Linked DNA regions of Homo sapiens: region 2 is linked to region 1. Evidence: fine-mapped expression QTL. A gene starts in region 1. The other region holds a variant in brackets. All regions are shown on one strand. Distances are from middle to middle.

The links. PIP is the estimated chance that this variant, and not a neighbour inherited with it, causes the effect.
Region 2: its variant is the best candidate, but not a certain one, in a credible set for the expression of CLN6 in whole blood (INTERVAL, PIP 0.73).

The regions. Positions count from the first base shown.
Region 1 is chr15:68,226,731-68,231,730 of GRCh38, reverse strand. CLN6 (CLN6 transmembrane ER protein) reads left to right here and starts at 2,003. Exons shown (of 7, transcript NM_017882.3): 1 at 2,003-2,229. The coding sequence starts at 2,147. RefSeq lists enhancers at 1,259-1,308, 2,539-2,618, 2,649-2,718 and silencers at 1,960-2,139, 1,909-2,498.
Region 2 is chr15:68,017,687-68,023,202 of GRCh38, reverse strand. No RefSeq gene overlaps it. Among named protein-coding and RNA genes, the nearest start is that of PIAS1, 34 kb to the left of the region's middle. RefSeq lists enhancers at 376-1,159, 2,388-2,925, 2,926-3,464. The variant G/A (reference allele first, on the strand shown) is at 2,749.

The DNA of each region.
Region 1 (5,000 bases):
AAAAAGGCAGATGTGTTTGTATTTAAGAGATTGGAGGATTAAATGAGCTAGAGAGGCTCCCTCCACACGGCCTCATCCTCTGATGGCTGGAAGCCCACCTCTGAGTGTTATTAAATCGATGATGACATCATGGGCACTGCATGCCCCTCCCTCTGGAGCCCAGCAGGCTTGCAAAGCCTGCAGAGGATAAGAAATTGGGGTCAGAGCGGGAAGCCTCAATCCTTCTTCTCTGGTGTATACCGAGATCGATGTGTAGATCAGATTCACCAGAATTAAATCTGGGGCCCCGTCTGAGTGCTGTCCTTGGCTGACCCTTGGGCACAGTACTTCAGCTCAGGGCCTAGGTTTTTCTCTGCTACAAAACAGAGACAATCACCTGTTCTCCTTACGACCTGGTGTGTGTGGATCAAATGAAACAAGGAAAGCTTTAAAGCAAATGTGTTCTTCAGGGGACCAGGGGCGGAGGGGGGGGATTGAGGTGTGGCCTGTGGGCTGCTAGAGCCCAGGATGGGGCTGATGGAAAATGACTCCCAGGCAGGCAGTCCTAGCCTCCCACAGCCAAGAAAGGACATGCAGGTTCTGACCAAAGGGGAAAGAAATAAATCCAATAAACATCTCCCAAGAAGAAAGACAGGAAAGAAAATAGAATGGAAATAGGCATAGCTCAGACCCCTCATGGTCTGGGAAGCAGACCAAGGATACTGGGCAGGGGAATGGCACATTGCATTTGCATCTGAGGCACATCCCTTCCAAGAGGCACATCCCTTCTGCAGCGGCTTGAGGGCTGGGTGAGAGGAGACAGGACTGGAGACCTGCACATGTCGTGTGCGCCTGGTGTAGCACGGGGGTGGTGGGGAGAATGGGAGTTGGTTGCAGTTGTTCTAGTTAGCGGCCTGGGCTGCTGACAGTGACCGTGGGGAGGAGAGAGTTTGTGACATTGACAGTGGTGTGGAAGGTAACCTTTCTGTGGAGGGAAACCTCAGGTCTCGAGACGGGCTATTGTAAATAACTTAGTCCACCAGTGCTGGGCTCTCTGCTAAGAGTTTCATATAGTCATCACAACTCCAATGTAGTAGATGCAATAGGCATCTTCTTGTTACAGATGAGTAAACTGAAGCTGTGAGGGGTTGAGCCATTTGCCCGCATCACAGCTAGTTCAAAGTGGTACCACTAATGAAGTCCTGGCAATCTGCCCTGCAGGCTGTTCTCAGGTTTGACCTTTGGTTCTGTTTTTCACTTGAGGATGCTGTCCCCTTAGGTTCTGTCTGTCTTGTATGCTCCGGTGACTCACGAGCCTGTCCACTGGGTTCCCAGGTCTCGCCTCAGCTTCAGACCACCGGTCCAACAGCCTTCCTGACCCACCTCAAGCTTAATGCGTTCAAAGATGAATCTTTATTTACACGAAATCTGCTCTAGCCCACTTCCCGGGGGGTGCCTCCACTATCCACCCAGGGGCAGAATCCGGCCACTGCCTGAACTCTTCTCCCCTCACCCCCCACATCCAGAGTCCCAGTCACCATACCTCTCACACGACTCTAGATGTCACCAACTCGCTCCTTCCCACTGTCACCGCCAGCCCCTCACTAGAACATCTGCAACCCACGTGCTGCACCACGCGGGTGCTACACGTGCAGGTCTCCAGTCCTGCCTCCTCTCCTCCACCCGTAAGAACAAGGGAAATCCCACAGAACCCTCTGCCCCGGGGAGCATTTAAATCAGCTTAGTCTATCTCCAGGTCGCTACCCCGCCCCAGCCCAACACCCAGGCCTCAGTCACCCTAGACAGAGATTCCCGTACCCAGGCAGGCAAGGGACCCTAACACATCCCAGCCCGCTGGTGGTCACGCGCGCAGCCCGGACAGGCCAGCAGCCCCCGCCCCGCGAGGACGCCACACTCGCAGCGCCCGGCCCTCCCCTAGCGGAGCCCGCCCCGTCTCCCTCCGCCCCGCCTCCCTCCGCTCCGCTCCGCTCCGCTCCGCCCCGCCCCGGGTCCGCAGCCCCGCCTGTTCCTCCCGAGGGCCGCGCGCTCTCGCCGGCCCGCCCCGAACCGCCCCGCGCTGGGAATTTGCGGCGGCCTCCGCCGGGGCAGCCGAGCTGAACCGGTCTCTTCCTCGGAAAGGCAGGGCCGAGGGGCCTGCGGGGCAGCCATGGAGGCGACGCGGAGGCGGCAGCACCTGGGAGCGACGGGCGGCCCAGGCGCGCAGCTGGGCGCCTCCTTCCTGCAGGCCAGGTGGGCGCGCGCCGGGGTGAGAGGGCGGGCTAGGCGCCTGTGCGCTGGGGCCTCGGGACCCGCCACGTGACGCTCCTAGGGCTGCCGGGCGGGAACCTCGTGTGCGGCGCTGGCCGGGGCGGAGCGGAGCGCGGGGGGCTTGGAGGCGCGCTACCGTGGCGGCGGTGCCCCCGCGTTTCCTTCTCTGTCTGGGGAGCCTGGGGCCCAGCGGGGCTCGGCCTCCCCGCTTCGCCGTTGCTCGGGTGGGAGGAGCGCCCGCCCGAAGTTTGGGGTTTTCCTCCCTTCCCGCGTTCCAGCGACCCGGGCTGGCGCCGGGACAGCCGCTGCGCTGGGAGAGCTCCCCAGGGCGGTGGGTACACACACCTCGTCACTCGGACCCCCAACTTATCCGCAAGTTCCGGGCGCCACCTCCGCGTTCTCGGGGTCCCTCCAGCCCTGAGTAGGACTTGATTCTGTCATTTATCAGGAGGCTGTCTGCTTGACCTGGGGCACCCAAGAATGTGCGAATGTAATGGAAGAGACAGCGGGGAAGGGCGGAAGCTGCCGTCCAGAGAATGAATGAGGAGCCCTTCTCAGTTTTTGGTTTATCTCGTTGGGCGAGCAGAGCTCCATTCTACCTTCGTCCCGTTTTACTGACCAGAAACATTCACTGCATTCAGCAGGCATTCTTTAAGCGCCTGTGGTATGCCCAGCGCTGTGCCAGGCAGTAAGGGGGTAGGCAGGGTGAAGGTGGGAGAGGCTTACGGTCCTGTAGGGATCAGGAGAGACAGAGCCCAAGTGGGAGTGAGCGGTCATCTTGGAGGGCTTCATGGAGGAAGTGGCACTTGAGCTGAGTCTCAGAGGACTTGGTAGGGGACCCAGGGAAGACAGGCTGTTCCATCCAGGGAAACAGTGGGGAAGGGCAAGGAGTTTAGTGGTGCTGGAGCTTTCCGGCTGTAAAAGAAAGTGACAGGAGGATGCAGACTGATTGTGAAGGGCCTTTAATTGCAGCAAGTCTAGGACTCGAGTTGAGGACCTAGATTGCAAAACTTAGGGGTAGGCGCACTGCCGTGACCGTGAGTGCCGCCTCAAATGTTGGGCCTTGGAGGCCTTGCTTGTCTCACCCTAGTTCCTGTCCTAGGTGACAGGTTAAGGACACAGTCTTTATCCCATAGGCACTGGGGAGTCGTGAGAAGTTTCTGAGCACTAGCATGCGCAAAGTCCTTGTTAGGAAGTTTTTGGTACGACCTGGATGAAGGGAGAAGTCTGAGCGCTTGGGCTGAGGTGAGGGATGGCTCGTTTCTGCTGCTGCGGACATGCGGGCTGAGCAGCTGCGGACTGTGTCCGTTTTCACTTAGAAACAATGTACTGGCCATAGACCGCATACTGTAGCTCACCTGTCTCCCTCGGCCTGTGAGTTAAGTATTATTTTACTGATGAGGAAATAGGCTTAGATGGGCTGAGGAGCCTGACTGGCTGAGTCCCCGGGCTGTCTGCCCCACGCCGTGTCCAGTGGTTTCATCTCTGCTGTGACCCAACCCATTTACCAGCTCCCCTCTTCCAGGCAGCCTCTTCTGCCTGCGGGATGTCTCTGTTCCGAATCCTTGCCAAGTTGGGGGTCACTGACTGCCCTGAACTGTGACAGCCCAATGGGAACAGCCTGTGGGTCTCAGATAGGGTCACCACTTTATCTCCTGTGTGGGGCTCCCATGTCTAGCATCTTACTCAGTCTTGACAATGAGCTGCCAGATGTCACTTCCAATGTACAGATGGGGAAATGGAGGCCCAAAGAGGTTACATCATTTGCTGGCAAGAACCAGGGCCTAAACCCAGGGTTTCTGACTTACGGGCTCTGCTCTTACGACTCCACTTTGGCTGCTAAGGAGTCATGTCCCTCTTCCCCTGTGTGAGCTCCCCACCAGCCAGGGTATTCCCAGGGGGGTGGTGTGAGGGTGGGAGCTCTCTGTCTCCCAGGGTGTCTCTGCCCCCCACAATGTGGCTTCAGCCCATTCCCAGTATCATTGCTGCTCAAGAGAGTAGGCAGAATCATCCTGTCCAGTTCCTAGGATGCTTGGATTTCCTCTGCTGCATCCGTGCTTTGCTCACTACCTCTTAAGGTAACCCATTCCAACGTCCACCTGCTTTGTTGCCAGTTTTTGTATTATAATGAAAGTGTTACAATTAGGCCGGGTGCCATGGCTCACGCCTGTAATCCCAGCACTTTGGGAGGCCAAGGTGGGTGGATCACTTGAGTCCAGGAGTTCGAGACCAGCCTGGCCAACATGGAGAATCCCCGTCTCTACTAAAAAATACAAAAATTATCCAGGTGTGATGGCCCATGCCTGTAATCCCAGCTACTCAGGAGGCTGAGGCACCAGGATCCCTTGAGCCTGGGAGGCGGAGGTTGTAGTGAGCCGAGATGGCGCCACTGCACTCCAGCCTGGATGACAGTGAGACTGTCTCAAAAAAAAAAAAAAGTAAAAAAAGAAAAGAAAAGAAAGTATTATAATTAGTGCCCGTGATAAATCAAATAGCAAAGGCTTCAAGTTTTAAAAAGTAGTAATCCCTGTCCCACTCTTCCCTAGCACCAGAGACAATCACCCTAGCTTCTTTTAGCTCTTTTTTCCAGAGTCAAATTCCTATTTCCAAATAATATGTTTATAACAATAAAAAACACTAGCACTTTTTATGGATCAGGCCCTGCTCTTAAGTTTTTGCATGTATTAATTAAACCACGACCCTTGAGATACGATCTACTGGCCAGGTGTGGTGGCTCATGCCTGTAATCCCAG
Region 2 (5,516 bases), 210 kb after region 1:
CTCAGTGAATTGGTTTTATTTGTGCAGCGGGCAGGTAGAACCCATCAGGTGGGGCCGGGCGCGGTGGCTCATGCCTGTAATCCCAGCACTTTGGGAGGCTGAGGCGGGCAGATCACGAGGTCAGGAGATTGAGACCGTCCTGGCTAACACGGTGAAACCCCATCTCTATTAAAAATACAAAAAAATTAGCCGGGCATGGTGGCGGGCACCTGTAGTCCCAGCTACATGGGAGGCTGAGGCAGGAGAATGGCATGAACCTGGGAGGTGGAGCTTGCAGTGAGGCGAGATTGCACCACTGCACTCCAGCCTGGGCAACAGAGTAAGACTCCGTCTCAAAAAAAAAAAAAAAAAAGAACCCATCAGGTGATTACGTTACCTTCATTGGAGGCAACTCTGAAAAGCCATCCCAACTCCAGAATTCCCCCCAAGGTTGGCTGAGGCCCTCATCCCTCTCTCCTTACAGGCATTGATCCTGAGAGTTCTCCCCAGCAAACTTCCAGCATACAAATAGGTGCCTCAGAGGCGCCTCATCCTAAGACAGTGTGTAGCAGACAGGGAAGCTGAAGCCTGGAGACCATCTGAGAAGACGGTGAGCAAAAGCCATGAGGTACCAGACACTACGGTCTCACAGAAGTCATTCCGAGGTCAGGAGCCACAGATTAAAAATGAGAAAAAAAAAGTAGACGGGGTCAAGTCACTTTCTCAACGTATCCTGAACATCAGCTGAAGTAACGAGAAGTTGTTTTTCCTTCCTGCCAACTGGAAAGAGCCTCAGGACCACACTCAGCCAGGCACCAGAGCTGGGCATCTGCCTTGTGTCTGTCTTGTCCCTCCACTTCCCTTGACCCTTGGACCAGTGACAGGGACACTCTGCCTACATTTGTCAGCCTCTCCCTTTGAGGAACTGGCCAACGTTCTCTAAACAGCCAACTTCTGGCTGCAGCGTTGTTCCGAATAAATTGACCTAGAACAAAGGTGCTTCCTCCTGTCTGACTCCAAGTACAACAAGTTCTTTGGACACTGTGTCTTGACTTCTGCTGGCTGCCCTGGGGCGTAGTTTGAGGTGGGGTCATCTTCTCTTGCTCTGTACCCGCAGGCTCCAGCCCCCTTGCTCTCCCTGTTAATCCAGGATGCTGAGGGTAAGGCCAAATTCACTCATGTTGTGATACTCTCCTTTTCCTTTCTGGCTTTAGTTTCTCCTCTAAGAAAATACAGACATGGGCCGAGCGCGGTGGCTCACACTTGTAATCCCAGCACTTTGGGAGGCTGAGGTGGGTGGATCACCTGAGGTCAGAAGTTCGAGACCAGCTTGATCAACATGGAGAAACCCCATCTCTACTAAAAATACAAAATTAGCCAAGTGTGGTGGCGCATGACTGTAATCCCAGCTACTCGGGAGGCTGAGGCAGGAGAATTGCTTGAACTCAGGAGGTGGAGGTTGCAGTGAGCGGAGATCACAACATTGCACTCCAGCCTGGGCAACAAGAGTAAAACTCTGTCTCAAAAAAATAAAAAAAGAAAGAAAAAAAGAGAAAATACAGACATGGCTCCTATGGCCTTAGGGTTTTCCCCTCATTTCTTGCTCTCTTGCGCTGCATGTTTCTTTTATTCTTTAGCAAGAAATCTTCTCAAGTTTCAAACATTCATTAGATCTGAACTAACGGTTATAGAGAACATCTCAGTAGTAGCATGAAGTGTTCACATTGAGTCTGAAATATTAGCTCAACTACTTCTTTTTTTTTTTTTGAGACAGAGTCTCGCTCTGTTGCCCCCAGGCTGGAGTGCAGCCGCACTAACTTGGCTCACTGCAAGCTACGCCTCCCAGGTTCATGCCATTCTCCTGCCTCAGCCTCCCAAGTAGCTGGGACTACAGGTGCCCGCCACCACGCCTGGCTAATTTTGTTTTTGCATTTTTAGTAGAGACAGGGTTTCCCTGTGTTAGCCAGGATGGTCTCGATCTCCTGACCTCGTGATCCGCCCACCTCGGCCTCCCAAAGTGCTGGGATTACAGGCGTGAGCCACCGCGCCCAGCCAACTATTTCTTTTTATAATGTAAAAGTTGATGGATCATAAAAGTTGGCTTTTAAATGGATTTACTTAAACATTTTTAATATGCAAAAATTTAAACATTTACACACAAAATCATATGAAGCCCCTTATACCCTTCATCCAGCCCAATCAACCTAAAACATACGTGTTTATTTCTACCGTGTTCAGTTGACTGAGAGGAGTCAACAGATGGTAAATCAACTCATTTACTTGCAGGTAACTGAAGGTCAACTTAAAATGACAATTCCTGATTGCTTTGTTTGATTGACCTGGGTCAGAGTGCTAATTCAGGCATGCATGGTGAGACTCCCACATTGAACTGGTCTATAAGTGTCAATGATTCTCTCTTCTGCCCATCCCTTGGATCTATCCCCTTCTATGTACCCCTTGCTTCCCGAATTTGGGAACCTCAGTTGCCTCTTGCCTATGCAGCTAGATTTTATATACTGAGATTTTAATAGGTTGCCTCCCTCCCTCATTTGCTCCTCCCCATTCCTCTCATTTAAACAGAGAGTTATCTCTGAACTATGAAACCTTGAAAAAGCTCTCAGGCAGAGCAGAAGGCAGAAGGAGGCAAAGCTTTCTGGCTTTTGTTTGCGGGAAACCCAAGAAGCCTGAGGGAAAATTAGGGAGTTTGCTAAGGAATGAAGGGAAGAAGCTGGTTTGCAGGTATTGGTGGTGTTTAGGGACAAAAATAGA[G/A]CATCTTGGTGGGGAAAAAGAAGAGAGAGGCCTGAGGGTCTCTGATCAGCAGGGAGCATGGTTCTGCTTCCTGAGAGGTGGCACGTCCCCAGGAAGGAATCGGTGCTGGCTTGTGACTACAAGCAGACTCACAAACAGTGCCTGAATCCCAAACATGACATGAAGATAACAGCATTACTGGGCCCAAAGGGACCATGTGGGCAGGGCCGACGGTTGTCTCAGTGGTACCACATGTCTGATGAGGAGCACGTTGCCACTCCCCACTATCCCTCTCCCCAACAGTGATATTGGCACTAGGTGAGACCCTGGAGCTGTGTTGCACCACCCCTGCTGCTGAAGAGGGGAAGAACTCAGATCAAGTCTCAGCTGGATGGAGGCATCGCTGAGCCTCAGTTAAGTAATTTGCCCAAGGCACACGGCTACTAACAAGTGGCAGAGCTAGGCCAGGTCTGCCTGTGTTAGCATCCATGTGTTTAATTACGCTGCAGGATTGCAGAAATTCTATGCCTTCGTACCTCCATCAGCTCCCAGAGGAGCAAATGACACTTTTTTGCCCAGAGGTATGAAGGTAGATCAGATACCCTTTCAAGTGATCTTTCATCTAAGGCAGCTGTGGAGTGACAGAGGCCAGGGTAGGCAGGCAAAACCTCCAACTCCCCAAGACTTCCCCATACTCACAGAACCTTACAGCAATGCCAAGCCTCAGGTTCCTTGTCTGTGAAATGGAGGTGCAACACCTACCCACCTCATAGAGCTCATGGTGGGCAGATGATGGAGAAGAAATAAACTGTAATGTACAAATGTCCCAGTTTAGCAATACAGTCAGGAAGAACAGTAACAACTAGCACTTCAACCACAGCCCTGAGGCCCTGTTGGACCTTTGAGTGTGGTTCGTTCCTGGAGGCTAAGCTCTCTGGTCCCAGCCTGTGCACAGTCTGTTCCCTTACCTGGAACATGTTGTCCCACCCTCCCCTCCCTACTTTCCCTTTGCAAACTCCTACTGATCTTCTGGTCTCAAAAGAAGATGTCACCTCCTCTGGAGGGCCTTCTTGGGCCATGCCCCACCCAAACATCTGAGTAACACACCCCTTCTCTAGGCAATCCTGACATGCACTGCTCCTTGAGCACTGAAATCCCCACTCACCAGCCCATCAGCCCACTTCTCTCCCGCTACGGGCTTCCCCCAACTACACTAGAGACCTCATTGAAGGTGGGGGCTGTGTCTTGTTTATGGTTATATTTCTAAGCTCTAGAACAGGACCTCACACATAAGGGACATTCAGTATTTTAATATTTGTTAAATGAAGAAAGGAAAAAATATGCCCTCTGAGTCATCAAAGACAGATTCATTTATGGCCCTAGTAGTTTTTTCTTTCCTTTTCTTTCTTTTCTTTCCTTTTCTTTCTCTTTCTCTTTCTTTCTCTCTTTCTTTCTCTCCCCTTCCTTCCTTCCTTTCCTTCCTTCCCTCCCTCCCTCCTTTCTTTCTTTCTTTCTCTTTCTTTCGACAGGGACTTCTCACTCTGTTGCTCAGCCTGGAGTGCAGTGGAGTGATTGTAGTTCACTGTAGCCTCGACTTCCCAGGCTCAGCAATCCTCCCACCTCAGCCTCCTGAGTAACCAGGACTACAGGCACAAACCACCACTCCCGGCTAATTAGAAAAACATTTTTTTTGTAGAGACAGGATCTTGTCATGTTGCCCAGGCTGGTCTTGAACGCCTAGGCTCAAGCAATCTTCCCACCATGGCCTCCTAAAGTGCTTGGATTACAGGTATGAGCTACCATGCCTGGCTCAAAATAGTTTCAATGCCAAGTATATTTCATTCTGTCTTAATTTCCTGAAAATTGGTAATCCAAATACAGCTTAAATATAACATAGCTTGCACCAACCACCTGCAAGTAGATGACTGAATGATCAAGCCCTCCTCAATGGGCTTGATAATTCTTTGACTGGCTTCACTGGGCCTAAGACAGTTCTTGAGAAACATTTGCTGAGTAACTGGTAAACATAATATATATTTCCTTGACCAGAGTGGGGATGAAATTAACTGCATTAAAGTCTTATTTGTTTAATAAAATATAGGATTTTATAAGGAACAAGTCTTTACCTCTTGAAAAAATATCAAGGGCCAGGCATGGTGGCTCACGCCTGTAATCCCAGCATGTAGCAAGGCCGAGGGGGGAGGATCCCTTGATGTCATGTAGAAATGGGACAGAGTTCTTCCTTCACATATTCTTATGCTCTCTGAGTCATCAAAGTCAGATTCATTCATGGCTCTAATAGTTTCTTTCTTTTTTTCTTTTTTGAGATGGTATCTTGCTCTGTCACCCAGGCTGGAGTGCAGTGGCGTGATCTCGGCTCACTGCAACCTCTGCCTCCCAGGTTCAAGGGATTCTTCTGCCTCAGCCTCTTGAGTGGCTGGGACTACAGGCGCTCGCCTCCATGCCCAGCTAATTTTTTTTGTATTTTTAGTAGAGATGGGGTTTCACCACATTGGCCAGGCTGGTCTCGAACTCCTGATCTTGTGATCCACCCGCCTTGGCCCCCAAAGTGTTGGGATTACAGGCGTGAGCCATGGCGCCCAGCTAGTTTCTTTTTCTTCCTTTTTTTTTGAGATTGGGTCTCGCTCTGTTGCTCAGGCTGGAGTGCAGTGGAGTGATCATGGTTCACTGCAGCCTCAGCCTCCCAAGCTCAAGCAATCCTCCCACCTCAGCCTCCTTTTTTTCTTTTTCCTTCTTCTGTTGTCCCACTGATCACAAAACCCACACCA